2 separate regions of the Homo sapiens genome follow, and region 1 is linked to region 2. A link means that fine-mapping ties the variant in region 2 to the expression of a gene that starts in the linked region. Tissue or cell type: whole blood. Region 2 holds a variant in brackets; the other region holds the start of a gene. All regions are shown on one strand. Distances are between the middles of the regions.

Region 1 (8,099 bases), 31 kb before region 2:
AATGTGGGCGGGCGCCAGCTAATGGGCTAGGGCCCAGAATGAACACAAAAGGCAAAGAAGGGATTTCCTGTCTCTCTTCCTGGAGCTAGGACACTCTTCTTCTCCTGTCCTTAGACATTAGATCCCCATGCTCTTCAGCCCTTGGACTCCAGGACTTACACCAGCAGCCCCTGGGTTCTCAGGCCTTCATCCTCTAAGCATCACACCACTGGCTTCCTTGGTTCTGAGGATCTCAGATTTGGACTGAGCCACACGACCGGCTTGCCAGGGTCTCCAGCTTGCAGAAGGCCTCCAATGGGACTTCTCAGCCTCCATAATCATGTGAACCAATTGCCCTCACAAGTCCCCTCTTGAATGTGTACATCTATCTATATACTGTATTTATTCTGTCTCTCTAAAGAATCCTGACTAATGCAGCAAAGCAAAACACTGTGCTCAATCACCCAGCAGGTAAGAGGCAGAGCTACCAACCTCCATCTGAACCATTATGCACTGCTGCTGTATCCTATACCATAGTAACTGGATTAAGGGTAGAAGAAACTTGCTCTTTTTGGAACCTCCTCCTCCCCCCAAAACAAGCCTAGCTATACTCAGTGAAAATTATACAGATTAGAGAGTAGGACTTGGCCAGGCGCGGTGGCTCATGCCTGTAACCCCAGCACTTTGGGAGGCTGAGGCGGGCGGATCATGAGGTCAGGAGATCGAGACCATCCTGGCTAACACGGTGAAACACTGTCTCTACTAAAAATACAAAAAAATTAGCTGGGCATGGTGGTGAGCTGTAGTCCCAGCTACCCGGGAGGCTGAGGCAGGAGAATGGCGTGAACCCAGGAGGTGGAGCTTGTAGTGAGCTGAGATCCTGCCACTGCACTCCAGCCTGGGTGACAGAGCAAGACTCCATCTCAAAAAAAAAAAAAAAAAAAAAAAAAAGGAGAGAGAGAGTAGGACTTTCAGATCCATAGCCAACATAAAGCACCCACAAATCTTCATCAGGTACTAAAGGGTATAATAGTGATTACTTCTGTTTATAAGCCCTACTATCAGGAGGTTTACACTGATATTTGTTAATGTTCACAATAAGCCTTCAAGGTAGATGGCATTACCCCACTTTATAGAAGAGAAAACTAAGTTTCAGAGGTCTTCCAAATGATACACAGTGAGGACAAGGCATTGCCGGGTTGTTTGAATTTGCCCCACTCCAACGTTAGTCTTTTCACATGGTTGTTAACCTTCAGGTGGACCTGGGGCAGCATACTGTGGTGAACACAAAATAAACTCCAGACTTCTAGGCTTTCAGAGCAGAAATTACTCTTCCCTACCCTGAGAAGGGCCCCCAAAATAGAAGGCTGCTGCATCACTTAGTGGATACATACACCGCAACCTCAACCACTCTTGGCCTGAGATTACCTTTAGGGTTCTCGCCTGGAAGAAGAGCACATCTCTCCCGCTCAGCCTACTCTCAGGGAAAGCAAGTAAAGATCTGGCAAGCACCCAGAAAGACTGAGGGTTATTTTTTGTTTTGTTTCCAGTGTTTTTAAAATTGTATATAGGTATGGCTACAACATGTTTTGATATACATATGCAGTAACTGTTGATTCTAGTCTAGAAAGGCCATAGATACCACTACCCAGCTCCTTCTCAGACAAACCTTTATCAAAGTTTTATTAGCCTCAGCTCAAGGGATCTCTATTTGGGCATCTCATTACAGGGCAAGGACGCTTCAGCCATTTGTAACACCACCACTCAAGAAGGATCTTCAAGGGTGGCAGTGGAAATGAGTTGCAAAGGAACTGTAAATTCTCCTTGCCCCTTCCCCCCTCTTCATGCAGTTGCTCTCTCAACCCACCTATTCCTTCAAGTCTGACACTGGATTACTCCCATTCCCTGAACACATTTCCCACGTTCTCATCTCTGCTCATTTATTCCACTTCCCTTTGCCTGGAACTTATTCTTCCTTGGCCAAAATCTATCTTCTGCATTGAACTCCAACAGCACTTAATTTTTTCGTTTCTTTTTTCTTTTTGACACGGAGTCTGACTCTGTTGCCCAGGCTGGAGTGCAGTGTGGCGCGATCTCGGCTCACTGTAACCTCCACCTCCCGGGTTCAAGCAATTCTTCTGCCTCAGCCTCCCAAGTAGCTGGGATTACAGGTGCATGCCACCACGTTCAGCTAACTTTTTTATGTTTTTAGTAGAGATGGGGTTTCACTGTATTAGCCAGGCTGGTCTTGAACTCCTGACCTCAGGTGATCTACCCACTTTGGCCTCCCAAAGTGCTGGGATTACAGGAGTGGGCCACCGCACTGGCCTTTTTTTTTTTTTTTTTTTTTTTTTTTTTTTTTTTTTTGAGACAAGGTCTCACTCTGTCGTCCAGGCTGAGTGCAGTGGGGCAGTCGTTGCTCACTGTAGTCTCAATTTCCCAGGCTCAAGCAGCAATCTTCCCACCTCAGTCTCTCAAGTAGCTGGGGACAACAGGTGCACGCCACCACACTCAGCTAATTTCTTTCTTTCTTTCTTTTTTTTCCCAAGACAGAGTCTCGCACTGTCCCCCAGGCTGGAGTGCAGTGCTGCAATCTCAGCTCACTGCAACCTCCGCCTCCTGGGTTCAAGCGATTCTTCTGCCTCAGCCTCCTGAGTAGCTGGGACTACAGGCACACCACCACACCCAGCTAATTTTTGTATTTTTAGTAGAGACGGGGTTTCACAATGTTGGCCAGGATGGTCTCGATCTCTTGACCTTGTGATCTGCCCGCCTCGGTTTCCCAAAGTGCTGGGATTACAAGCATGAGCCATCGCATCTGGCCTATATTTTATATTATATATATATAATTTATGTAGATACGTGTTTTGTTTTCATTTCTGTGGGTAATTTGGAAATCCTCTCCCTTAACCCCTTAAAGAAGGCCTTTAGGTTCTCTAGTTAAAGGGTTCTAAGCTTCACATCCAAAAATCAAGTTTCCAGGCACTCAGAAGACAATTTCCAAATAAACCTTTTTTTCCTTTTTTTTTTTTTTTGAGACGTAGTCTCGCTCTGTTGCCCAGGCTGGAGTGCAGTGGCGTGATCTCGGCTCACGGCAGCCTCCGCGTCCCTGGTTCAAGCAATTCTCCTGCCTCAGCCTCCCAAGTAGCTGGGATTACAGGTATGCACCACCACACCCGGCTAATTTTTATATTTTTAGTAAAGATGGGGTTTCATCATGTTGGCCAAGTTGGTCTCGAACTCCTGGCCTCAGGTGATTTGCCCACCTCGGCCTCCCAAAGTGTTGGGATCACAGGCATGAGCCACCAAGCCGGGCGGAAACTTTTTTTATTGTAGAGATGAGGTCTCATTATATTGTCCAGGCTGCTCTCGAACTCCTAGCCTCAAGTAATCCTCCCACCTAGGCCTCCCAAAGTGCTGGGATTACAGGCATAAGCCACCGCACCGGTCCCCAAAGACTTTTGAAAAGTGTGGGCTCATTAGGAGAACTAATCCAGAAGGAAAAGAGATGGGAGTGAGTGCTTTAAATGGAAGAAGAAAATAATCTGCGGAGGGAAGGGAAAGTTAGAGAGGGCACCAGGCTTTTGATGGCTTATGGGACAAGTAGGGACCTAAGGCTCCACTTGCATATAGCACACCAGGATGTGGAGAACGTCGTAGGCGACTGTCCACTATGTACCTTGCCTTTGAGAGTAGTGGCAAGGGTCTCTTTGAGCAAGTCTGGAGTGGTAGAAGAAGCCATCCTAATGATGCAACCAACGTGGATTAAGGATCTGGTCTCTACCTCACTTTTTGAAGGAAGAAACACTTAATTGGCAATAATGACGGCGAAACAAAACAAACACAATTCAGAAAAAGCAGTAAAATATGTAAAAAGAGCTAAAATGCTGCTTAAGATTTCCCGTACCAACAATGTCAACCGTTTTAGAACCGACTGGAATATATGTAATACTGGAAATATATATACTGGAAACAACTTCTTGTGTTCCCTGATGTCTGGGACCCTTTTCTTTGCTAGACTTCAGATCTCTGATCTGAACCATCCCTCTTAGTTCAAGTACTCCAATCGCCTTCAGTGTTTCCACCAAGCCGTCCTTCCTCAATTTCTCCCTCCAGGTTTCCCTTCCCCAACTTTCCCCCTGCATCAGACTCTCCCTCAGCCTTCCTTTCTCCCTGTGCAGTCTGTCTCACTCCTGTCTTCCTCCCCAGGCGGTCTCAATTCTCTCTCCCTCCCCTTTCCGTGACCCTCTCGGCAGTCTTTTACTTCCTTACTTCGGTGACCGCCCCCCACCCCACTCCCCACAGCCTCCCTCCACTGCTCAGCCGTTGGAGAGGGCGTGGCCCCGCGAGTAACAGGTCTCCCGCCCCACACTCCGCGGGCCCGCGCGCAGACAAAGACATTCCACAGCTCCCGCCCCCTCCACGCCAGAAAGGGGAGGAGACACGTGTTCCGCTAGCGCCGAGTCACGTGGAAAACGAAACGAACGGAGCCCACTGCCTCCCGCGCATGCGCATCAAGCTCTGGCCTGGCGGGAGCGGAGGGAAAGCCAGAGTCGGGAGGCGACTTCTCGGACGCCGCGGCGGTGCGCAGGCGCCGTGGCCGGACTGGGGACTTTGTTCTCCGCGGAGAAACCCAAGGGCGGTGCCGGTGGCTGGCTGCGCACGCGCGCCGCCTCATTTCCGGTGCTCTCTCTCGCTGGGTCGCTCGGGTCGGCTTCGGTCGCTACCGCTCCCGCTCTGCCACCCCCGCCAACCGCCGCTCGGGCCTCCGTCGCTGCCGCGTCGCTTTCTCGCTCCTTGGATCGCACATCCTCCCAGATGCAGCGCCGGGACGACCCCGCCGCGCGCATGAGCCGGTCTTCGGGCCGTAGCGGCTCCATGGACCCCTCCGGTGCCCACCCCTCGGTGCGTCAGACGCCGTCTCGGCAGCCGCCGCTGCCTCACCGGTCCCGGGGAGGCGGAGGGGGATCCCGCGGGGGCGCCCGGGCCTCGCCCGCCACGCAGCCGCCACCGCTGCTGCCGCCCTCGGCCACGGGTCCCGACGCGACAGTGGGCGGGCCAGCGCCGACCCCGCTGCTGCCCCCCTCGGCCACAGCCTCGGTCAAGATGGAGCCAGAGAACAAGTACCTGCCCGAACTCATGGCCGAGAAGGACTCGCTCGACCCGTCCTTCACTCACGCCATGCAGCTGCTGACGGCAGGTAAGGGGGCCTCCCGTGTCCCTCTGGGTCGCCCGGCCATCCCGGGCATGAGTGGCCCTGGCTTTGTTCCTCTCGCTTCCCGCCCCCTCGGGACCGAGGCAGTCGGGAGTTCCGGTCTCATCCTCATTTTTGGGAGCCTGGATTCCACATTCCCACCTCAGCCCGGAGTGCGTGGGAGAATTTCTAGGCTGCAGTGGAGGCCCGAAGGCGACTTTGCGATCCCCTAGCGCTAATGTCTTGATGGATAGTGCTGAGCTCCCCGCCCCTTTCCCGACTCTTCCCTCCTCCCTCCTCTTGCGGCTGCCGGGCGCGCAGATTCTTCCAGAAATGAACCTTCATTTCCCCCTTTCCCTGAAGGGAAACCCTTTTTGATCGCGGGTGGCGATGAGCGCCTCGACCGAGGTGTAGGAGGTGAAGACAGCCAGAGCGGGGAGGGACCGTGGGAGGAAGGGCCGAGGTGAGGTGGGGTGAGGCTGGAATGCCCTGTCCAGTGCCTTGCTGTCGCTGGGGCCGAGCCGGACTTAGCGGTAACCGCAGCTTAAGTTGCTGGGAGGAAGGAGCGATTTATGTGGATCGGAGCTTGAGGTTTCCGAATCAGATTTCCGACTAAGGCTGATAAAATAAGAATTGCTACTGAGCCATTTTACACCGTGTGTTCACTGTCGTTGAAGGAGTGAAGTAACCCTAGAGACAGTGAAATGGGACGATAGGGACTCCCGCGTAGTTCACATGACGTTTCCCAACGAGATGGACAGAAATTGAGAGAAGTTGCATGATGCTTGTACTGAAAGGCTTGGCCTTTTTGTTGCTGTTTTTTACATTTTTGATTCAGTAGTGAAATAGATTAGAAATGAGAGTCTTTGTTCTGTAGGTTAGCGCTCTTTTCCTCATCAGCACTGGCCAATCACCTAGTCGCTCTGATTTTTCCCTAAAGCTGTCTGACTTTCGCTTCTAGTTAAAATATTATTTTAATATTTTTTATGATACCTAAATTTTACTAAGCAAGTAAAAATTCACATCCTTCAACACTGAATGAGTAGTTGGACTCTTTGGCAAGGTTAATATAATGGACAGTTCATTATGAAAATATTATCTCCCTCCCTTTGTTCTCTGTCTCCCAACACTGTAAGGTAAGGGATCTTTACCAGTGTGGTGTTCATCTTTTATGCTTTCTTAAGATAACTGTCAAAAACTGTTGATCCTTAAAAGTTACTTTTAATTTTCAGTCTCCCCTCACTGCTTAACTAAGAGAGTGCTCTTTATTTTTAACTTGGGCTTTCTGGATGTATTTTTTTTAAACCCAACTGAAATTGGAGAAATGTGATTGAGGTTACTGTTGGTTTGGGATGTATGAATTCTTTCTAGCATGGATAAGTGTTAATATATGTTGAGCCTGGCTTTTAAGGTATTTCTGAATTATCTTGCAAGGGGATTGCAGTGAAGTCACAACCCATTGTGCGGAAGTGAGACTTTGAGAAGATAGAATAGTAGTATTTAAGCTCTGGTAAGATCACATGGAAGGGGCAGGCGCGGTGGCTCACGCCTGTAATCCCAGCACTTTGGGAGGCCGAGACGGGCTGATCGCGAGGTCAGGAGTTGGAGACCAGCCTGATCAACATGGTGAAACCCCGTCTCTACTAAAAATACAAAATTAGCTTCGCGTGGTGGCGCACGCCTGTGATCCCAGCTACTTTGGAAGCTGAGGCAGGAAAATCACTTGAACCTGGGAAGCGAAGGTTGCAGGGAGCCCAGATTGCGCCATTACACTCCAGCCTGGGCAACAAGAGCTAAACTCCATCTCAAAAAAGGAAAAAAAAAAAAAAAAGAAAAGAACACACGGAAGAAAAATATAGCTAACACTTAATGTTTGAGGTCTGAGCACTTTACATTAAATATTTAACCTATAAAATGAAATGAGAACTTACTTTTATTATCCTCACTTATACAGATGAGGAAACCAAGACACCCAGAGATTAATAATTTGCCTAAGGTAACAAAATTAGTAAGCATCGTAACCAGGATTTTTGGTCAGTCTACACACCTTCCCCGTTCCCTCACTATAGTGCCTGCTGCAAATTGTACTTTAAGCTATAGTTGGACAAAATATTAAAATCTATCTGGGATGATAGGTGACCAAAAAAAAAAAAGTATATTTGAAAGTATCACAGTGTTAACAGGGCAGTGAAGATGATAAGGCTAAGATACAGAAAGGAAACCAGAGAGCAGAGTCTACTGCTTGGGACTGTGGCTCCTCCAGGCACCTTTGACCATTCCCAATAAGGTACCGTGAGACCCTGAGCACTCTTCCTGTACCACCTACACAGCTCTCCTCTTCCTTTCCTGGGTTTACTTTATTTTTCACTATCAGCATCTGTTGCACTATATTGTCGTTATGTACAGTATTTGTTTGTTGATTACCCATTCTCCATGGCTAGAATGTCAGCTCCACCAGAGCGCAGGAATCTTTTGTCTACTTTGTTCACCGTTGTATCTTCTATGCCTTGAAGAGTGCTGCACAGAGTGGCCTCTTATTAAATATTTCACGAAATAATACATATTCACCTTCATTGAAGATGGGACTGATGAAAAAATGATGACAGCCGTGCACGGTGGCTCACACCTATAATCCCAACACTTTGGGAGGCTGAGGCAGACGGATCACTTGAGGTCAGGAGTTCAAGACCAGCCTGGCCAACATGGTGAAACCCCGTCTCTACCAAAAATACAAAAATTAGCCGGGCGTGGTGGCACATGCCTGTAATCCCAGCTACTTGGGAGGCTGAGGCAGGAGAATCACTTGAAACCGGGAGTTGGAGGTTACAGTGAGCCCAGATTGCACCATTGCACTCCAGCCTGGGTGAAGAAGCAAGACTCCGTCTCAAAAAAAAAAAAAAGACAAAATTTTGAGGGATGTAGATTT
Region 2 (8,104 bases):
TCCAGCCTGGGCAACAAAAGTCCGTCTCAAAAAAAAAAAATAGTGCCTATTAGAATCAGATTAGAGGCTGTAGGGGCTAGAGCCAATAATTCAGGACAGTACTGGCACCAAGCTCCTTGTTGGCTTGAAGACATCAACACAGTCCTTGATCCCAAGAGAGCTATGGAGGCTGCAACAGCAGCAGGACAAGGCTGCCTTCCCTGAGGTTTGGTTAAAAACACATCGCTCAAGTGTGTCCTCAAGAGCCAGTTATGGCCCTGTGTTAATAGGCCTCACTGGGAATACTATGTGGCAGTGGATGCAGCGAGAGCTACCTTTTCAGTATAAGGTATTTTCAGCATACCTGAGGGACTTCCAGAGAGTCCTTGGCAGGGGCTCAGCGATTGACAGTTCACGCTAAGATACTGGTTGACAGTCTCCCCTTATCCCTAGCTGAAAAAGAGGAGCCCCTTAGGGCCTCCCAGAGACAGACAAGCTGAGCCCAACTCAGCACAGTATGAAGTAGCCAATCAGCTGCTTGCCCAAGGAAACTGTTTTTACCAGTTTTAGCGAAATAGCACTGGACAGTTGCCAATCACTAACACTGTGTGTGATTGCACCCAAGTATTTCCCTCCATCAGTGAGGCAGTACAGTGGGGCCTCTGTATGTGTTTGACTAAATTGCATTTCTGTTTTGCTGGAGAAAAGACCAAACTGAAAGAGGCAGGCTTCTCTTTGTGCTCCTGATACGACGTTGCCACAGTTAATCCGTTCTGATCTCTGCTTTGATTAACAGAATTAGAGAAATAAACTGTCCAGGATGATCTGTATACGTCAGGAAAAAAAGAAAAAGAAACTGTCTTGTTGATACCCAGAAGCCACTTGGAAAGTGATGGACATGTGTGTTATACTAGGGGTATAATTAGGGTTCTGTGTGACTTTAGATCTGTATAGGAGTTTGAGGCCTATAGAGATGGAGGCAGATACTTGTGAATACAGGCAGCTGGAAAAATACTTCAGGGATGAACTAGCGTGTGTAAGGTGTGGGAAGAATAAATTTAACGCAATTTATTTTCATAAGAGGTCACCTCTAGAATTATGTGATCATATTCCTCAGGCTTTTCCCTGTCACAAAGGAGAACCATTTGAGGATGTGAACCACATTGTCTGGCTTCTGGCTTCTCTCACCTGTTGACTTAAGAAAGGAGATAAGGAATTATCCTTTTTTTTTTTTTTTTTTTTTTTTGAGATGGAGTCTGGCTCTGTTGTCCAGGCTGGAGTGGAGTGGCACAATCTCAGCTCACTGCAACCTCTGCCTCCCAGGTTCAAGCACTTCTCCTGCCTCAGCCTCCTGAGTAGCTGGGATTACAGGCATGCGCCACCACGCCTGGCTAATTTTTGTATTTTTAGTAGAGATGGGGTTTCACCCTGTTGGTCAGGCTGGTCTCGAACTCCTGACCTTGTGATCTGCCTGCCTTGGCCTCCCAAAGTGCTGGGATTACGGGCGTGAGCCACCGCATGCAGCCTTGGAATTATCTTAAACAGTGCTGTCAGTGCAACATTTGATTGCACATCCCTCTACCAGAGAGAGCAGTATCAGCTCTGCTGGTGGAGGGCCCCATGGAAAGTGGCCCTTGCTTGGTTTTCCCAGGGAGCTAGAGGACACTTCTCCGTAAGGAAACGTGACTTGCTGTTGCATGGAAGTGGGGCTGGCTGCCTGCTTCCAATCTGAAAGACTTCCAGAAGTCTTCCCACCTTACCTGAGGGTGCCTGCCAAATTGTTTTGGGAACAGGAAAGGCCATTGCAGACTCACTAAGATTAATGAGTTCCTCACTATCTCAAGCAAGGTGTTGGGTATCTCCAGGTTTGGGGACTGGCGTACAGATCACATTTGTCTATGAAGAACCTCGTTGTGGGAGATTACTCCAGAGTCAATGGCAGCCTTTTTAGATTTGTTCCCTTCTGTCCTTCCACTCAAAACTGAAAAATTGCCCAGGCTGCCCAAGAGGGCCAAGCCAAGTAGAGAGCAAGGAACACCAGGGGAAGTGTCAAGACATTAGAAGAAACTCAGTGTTTTTGGTGATCTTTACTATGTGACCTATCCCTGCTTATCCCTAAGTGCTGTCGCCACATGGTTTATAAACTGTCTTTGTTTTCCCCACAGGCCAGGACGACTGGAATGGGACCAGGCCGTCGCTGAAGGCCCCTCCTGCTAGGCCAGTGAAGGGAGCATACAGAGAGCACCCATATGGACGTTATTAAAAACAAACATGAGGGGAAAATATCAGTTATGAGCAAAGTTGTTACTGATTTCTTGTATCTCCCAGGATTCCTGTTGCTTTACCCACAACAGACAAGTAATTGTCTAAGTGTTTTTCTTCGTGGTCCCCTTCTTCTCCCCACCTTATTCCATTCTTAACTCTGCATTCTGGCTTCTGTATGTAGTATTTTAAAATGAGTTAAAATAGATTTAGGAATATTGAATTAATTTTTTAAGTGTGTAGATGCTTTTTTCTTTGTTGTTTAAATATAAACAGAAGTGTACCTTTTATAATAAAAAAAAGAAGTTGAGTAAAAAAAAAAAACACACAAACCTGTTAGTTTCAAAAATGACATTGCTTGCTTAAAGGTTCTGAAGTAAAGGCTTGTTAAGTTTCTCTTAGTTTTGATTTGAGGCATCCCGTAAAGTTGTAGTTGCAGAATCCCAAACTAGGCTACATTTCAAAATTCAGGGCTGTTTAAGATTTAAAATCACAAACATTAACGGCAGTAGGCACCACCATGTAAAAGTGAGCTCAGACGTCTCTAAAAAATGTTTCCTTTATAAAAGCACATGGCGGTTGAATCTTAAGGTTAAATTTTAATATGAAAGATCCTCATGAATTAAATAGTTGATGCAATTTTTAACGTTAATTGATATAAAAAAAAAAACAACAAAATTAGGCTTGTAAAACTGACTTTTTCATTACGTGGGTTTTGAAATCTAGCCCCAGACATACTGTGTTGAGAGATACTTAGAGGGAGGGAGTAGGTTTTGAAGAGGTTGATGGTGGTGGGGAGGGAAGGCCTCCTGAATTGAGTTTGATGCAGAGCTTTTTAGCCATGAAGAATCTTTCAGTCATAGTACTAATAATTAAATTTTCAGTATTTAAAAAGACAAAGTATTTTGTCCATTTGAGATTCTGCACTCCATGAAAAGTTCACTTGGACGCTGGGGCCAAAAGCTGTTGATTTTCTTAAGTTGACGGTTGTCAATATATCGAACTGTTCCCAAGTTAGTCAAGTATGTCTCAACACTAGCATGATATAAAAAGGGACACTGCAGCTGAATGAAAAAGGAATCAAAATCCACTTTGTACATAAGTTAAAGTCCTAATTGGATTTGTACCGTCCTCCCATTTTGTTCTCGGAAGATTAAATGCTACATGTGTAAGTCTG[C/T]CTAAATAGGTAGCTTAAACTTATGTCAAAATGTCTGCAGCAGTTTGTCAATAAAGTTTAGTCCTTTTTTAATCAAAGTAAATGTGATGAATTGTCATTTTTTTGGGTGGACCATAAAATAGTTTTCTCTTTCAAATAAACTTAAATTAACTCTAAAGTTAATGGGCTTGTTAAAAGTTGGAAACATTCTTAAAAGTGGTGGGGGGGATTTTATTTTAAGTTTACCAAAAAAAAGTTGATGGAGTTGTTAAGTTTTAGTTTAAAAATAACCAAAGCTTTTTCACCCCCTGGAAGTTGTTGGAAGCTGTTGTATCCAATCCTATCAAAAATTCTAATTTATGGAGAGTTTTCAACTCAACTGAGCTGAAACTTGGATTGGTTTCCATAGATAGGTCTCAGTATTTAAAAGTGCAAGCCAGCCTGGTTTGCACCTTCTGTAGAACCCCTAGGTGGCTCTAAAGTGTGACACCAAATAATTTCTGTGAGCTCAGAAGGGGACAGCATCTGCCTTTAGGCATGACAGTTCAGCCAACTCTGGGTGCCCTTGAGGGTTTCTCTTTCAATCCCAGAAATGCTGATAACTCAGCTGGGCTGGGGCAGGATTTGGCATGATAGGCTGGCTCTGAACCCCCTCCTAAGAGACCAAGAGAGGAAGTGATGGAATTGGTTGGTCCCATTTCAACTCTATGCTGATTCTCAGGGTTCTCATGGCTTCCCTAAGAGAGCCACCTAAACTGCTCGGGGGTGAAAAATCCTCTTGTATTGAAGTGCCAAGCTGCCTGCAGCAGTGCATGATGGACATTTTTTTTTTCTTTTTAAAACACACCAACAAAAAAATGTATTTGTAGATTGTGATAAAATGTAAATAACTGAATTTTCAACCATGGTTTGAAGTCAGCTTTCAGGGCATTATGTCTTGTTTTGATGAAAAGAGATCACTCTATACCCCCCTTTTTAAAGGAAAATTATCGCAAGAGAATCAGGATGTGTAAAGCTAACATGCATCGCAAAAAACCAAAGGTAACCTAAATGTCTGATTTTAATAGCACATATTTCTCTTTTACATAAACTGTGACAGCAACTTGCATAAACAATTCTTTAGCTGTTAATTTTAATGTTAAAACTTTGCAAAACTTGTTTAATAAAAATAGCTGTAAAAAGAAAAACCATATGTTGCCGCATAAATTAGCCATAACTCTTAATAATCCTGCCCATCACAAGTGAACTGTAACGTAACCTGGGCACAAAGTCTGACATCTTAAATGACACATTGTAAAATTTCAATGACTGTAGATTAGACCTCCTGCTGCACCCCAAAAGCTTTCTGCTCAGCTATTTAAAACTGTGTAAGGATGAGTCCCTGTAGGTCCCCATATTGATATTCACAATGAAACTTTACTTAAAATTTCTTAAAAGTTGCATGTTTCTCCTGTAATGTGTAAACTGCATGCAGGATCTCTTTATCTTTTATTTTGTATGTCTTTAAAACTTCCTCTTCAAAAGACTGATCTGTTATTTCTCCATTTTCAGGTGACTGAAAACTCCTGAGGCATTTCCTGGACTAGAATGGGTAGTGAAGACCCATGTCAGGTATGTTAAGGTGGCTTTCTATTAAGGAACATGGGCCTTTTATCATAACTGTAAAACAGTTATGCTAGGAGGTGGCCTGTAAGGTGGTCAATGGGTTAATCTTTTTTGTGGTCATTTGTACCTTATTTACGACATGACCACACTTACATGTCCATACTGAATTTACATCTAGTGGTTGATAAGGCCAGACAATATCAACTTAGATCTGTTGAATCCCACTCTGTTTATCCTGTTAATAACCTGATGAGGTGGTGTTCCACTTGGAGTTCATTGGTTGCAAGCAACAAAGTGGCTAATGTAAATGAAAAAGACTTTATTAGAAAGGTGTTAAGGGCTCAATGTTCAGTGCGAAGGATAAAAAATCTGGTGTGGGAACTGTAGTGGCTGCAGGGAACTGGGACAACAGTGGTAGACCACAGGAACGATCTTGAAACAAGGACTGGCTCCTTGGGCACAACTCAAACTATGTTGGGTCTCTTTCTGCCTCTACTCAAGATTCAGGTTTTAGAGAGGGAATATCAGACTGGATTAGCTGAGTCACATGCGTAAGAAAAACCAGTTCCTCAAAAGGCAGTTGGTGAGTTGTTAGGAAAGGGAAATGGATGCTGGGCAGCCCAGAAACAATTGTCCAGTAATATCCATATTTTACAGAAGTAACTTAGACCTAGTGAAGTTAAGTAACTTCCCAGGGTCCCATAATTAGTATGGCTGGTACTCAAGCTCAAGATTTCTGTTGCCAAAACCTGTCATCTTAATCCTATACTATACTGTCCTTAATCTAGGGAAAGGGTATTTCTTTTTTTTTTTTGGTTTTTTTGGTTTTCTTTTGTTTTGTTTTTTTTGAGACGGAGCCCTGCTCCATTACCCAGGCTTGGCTGCAGTGGCGCAATCTCAGCTCACTGCAACCTCCGCCTCTGGGTTCAAGCAATTCTCCTGTCTCAGCCTCCCGAGTACCTGGGACTACAGGCACCTGCCACCACGCCTGGCTAATTTTTGTATTGTTTAGTAGAGACGAGGTTTCACCTTATTGGTCAGGCTGGTCTCGAACTCCTGACCTCAGGTGATCCACCCACCTTGGCCTCCCAAAGTGCTGAGATTACAGGCGTGAGCCACCACACCCGGCTGGGAAAGGATATTTCTTATACTTAGGAGGTCCTTCATAGGGATAATTGTGGTATAGAAGAAAGGATGTGGAGTTTGACTCCCTGGTTTGTGTAGTTGGGGGCTGTGACAACAGTGAGCTTTCCTGTTAATTGAAGCCATTAAGCAACTAACTGGCTGATTTTTTCTCTGCTCTGAGGTGTTAGGATTAGGATGACACTGAGGAGAAAGGCCTAACTAGGTAAGCCCTACGCATATAGAACCTTTCACAGTGAAATTTGGCTTCTTGGAATTTCTTTTTCTTCCAAGCCTGCCTCTCAGCCTGTGAGAGATCTGGAAGCTTTAAGAGAGGGGCATATGTACTGAACAAGATTCTGGGCACCTGGCAAGTCCTACGTTTGATGTTGGTCACATGAATGGCTAGGAAATTTAGCGTGGGGAATCCCTGAATGCAGAGAATTTAGTCTCAACTCTTCCTAGGGTAGTCTGAAGAAGAAAAATGGATTAGAAGTTTGGGGAAACCTTTCATTTGGACTGTGAACTGTGCTTGGAAAGGCAGGTTCTGTTTGTGGACCTAGGCCTGCTGGTGTTCTGCCTGTTCTGGACATGTAGCTTCGCCCATTGATCCAAGTGTTTTCTGTAAAATTCTATCACTCACTACCTGTGAACTTTATTTATTTATTTTAAGGTGGAGTCTCACTCTGTTGCCCAGGCTGGAGTGCAGTGGTGTGATTTCAGCTTACTGCGACCTCCACCTCCCGGGTTCAAGCGATTCCCCTGCCTCAGCCTCCGGAGTAGCTGGGATTATAGGCACACACCACCACGCCTGGATAATTTTTGTATTTTTAGTAGAGATGTGGTTTCACCATGTTGGCCAGGCTAGTCTTGAACTCCTGGCTTCAAGTGATCCGCCCACCTCAGCCTCCCAAAGTGCTAGGATCACAGGCGTGAGCCACTGTACCCGGCCAGCCTGTGAACTTTTATTACAATTCTGTAAGCTTTAGAGACAGGCAAGATTGGGTATCTGTCCTGGCTCTGCTTCATGTGAGCCTTTGTCACCTTAGTCAGAAACAAAACCCTTTCAGTGCCTCATTTATCATCAAATGAAGTTGATGATAATACCTGACATTTATCACTGTATGCATCATAATATCCTAACAGAGTTAGTAAGTATCTCATTTGGTCCCTTTCTACCTTTGTTTCTGTTTTGAGGAAAAATTCACATAGCATAAAATTTACAATTTTAAAGTGTACAATGCAGTAGTTTTTAGTATATTTATACTGTGCAACCATTTCCACTATTTAATTCCAGAATATTTCCATCACTCTAAAAACAAATCTTATATCTGCTAATAGTCACTCCCAACTCCCTTCTCTCCCCAGCTGTTGGCAGCCACTACTCTTTCTGTGGGTTTGCCTATTCTGAACATTCCATATAAATGGAATCATATAATATATGCTTTTTGGAATTGGCTTCTTTGACTTTGCATAGTGTTTGGTTCATCCAGGTTATAGCATGTAACATAGTACTTCATACTAGTCATAGGAAACATTACTTCCAAAAGCAGCCCATTTCATTAGAGATGGCTCTAAGTATTTTATCTCTCATTTTGAATGAGACCTGTACCTCAGTAATTTAAACTGAATCTGCTTTGGACCTCTGAAGCAACATCCTTTCAGGTATTTGAAGATCATTTTCATTACTGTGTCTTTCCCTTCTCTAAAAATTTTCTTGGCTGCGCATGGCAGCTCATGCCTGTAATCCCAACACCTGGGGAGGCTGAGTTGGGAGGATCACTTGAGGCCAGGAGTTCAAGACAAGCCGGGACAACATAGCAGACTCTGTCTCTACAAAAAGTTAGCTGGGCATTAGCTGGGCATGATGGCTTGCACCTCTTATCCTAGCTACTCAGGAGGCAGGGGAAGGAGGATCACTTGAGTCGAGGAGTTCAAGGTTACAGTATGCTATGATCACAACACTGTACTCCAGCCCGG

The links. PIP is the estimated chance that this variant, and not a neighbour inherited with it, causes the effect.
Region 1: it holds the start of KHDRBS1, and the variant in region 2 is fine-mapped to the expression of KHDRBS1 in whole blood (TOPMed, PIP 0.90).

The regions. Positions count from the first base shown.
Region 1 is chr1:32,009,199-32,017,297 of GRCh38, forward strand. It overlaps KHDRBS1 (KH RNA binding domain containing, signal transduction associated 1), which reads left to right and starts at 4,670. Exons shown (of 9, transcript NM_006559.3): 1 at 4,670-5,179. The coding sequence starts at 4,798. RefSeq lists silencers at 4,879-5,088, 5,569-5,678 and an enhancer at 4,905-5,475.
Region 2 is chr1:32,040,383-32,048,486 of GRCh38, forward strand. KHDRBS1 (KH RNA binding domain containing, signal transduction associated 1) reads left to right here. Exons shown (of 9, transcript NM_006559.3): 9 at 2,145-3,495. The coding sequence ends at 2,242. Among named protein-coding and RNA genes, the nearest start is that of TMEM39B, 29 kb to the right of the region's middle. RefSeq lists an enhancer at 4,047-4,930. The variant C/T (reference allele first, on the strand shown) is at 3,419.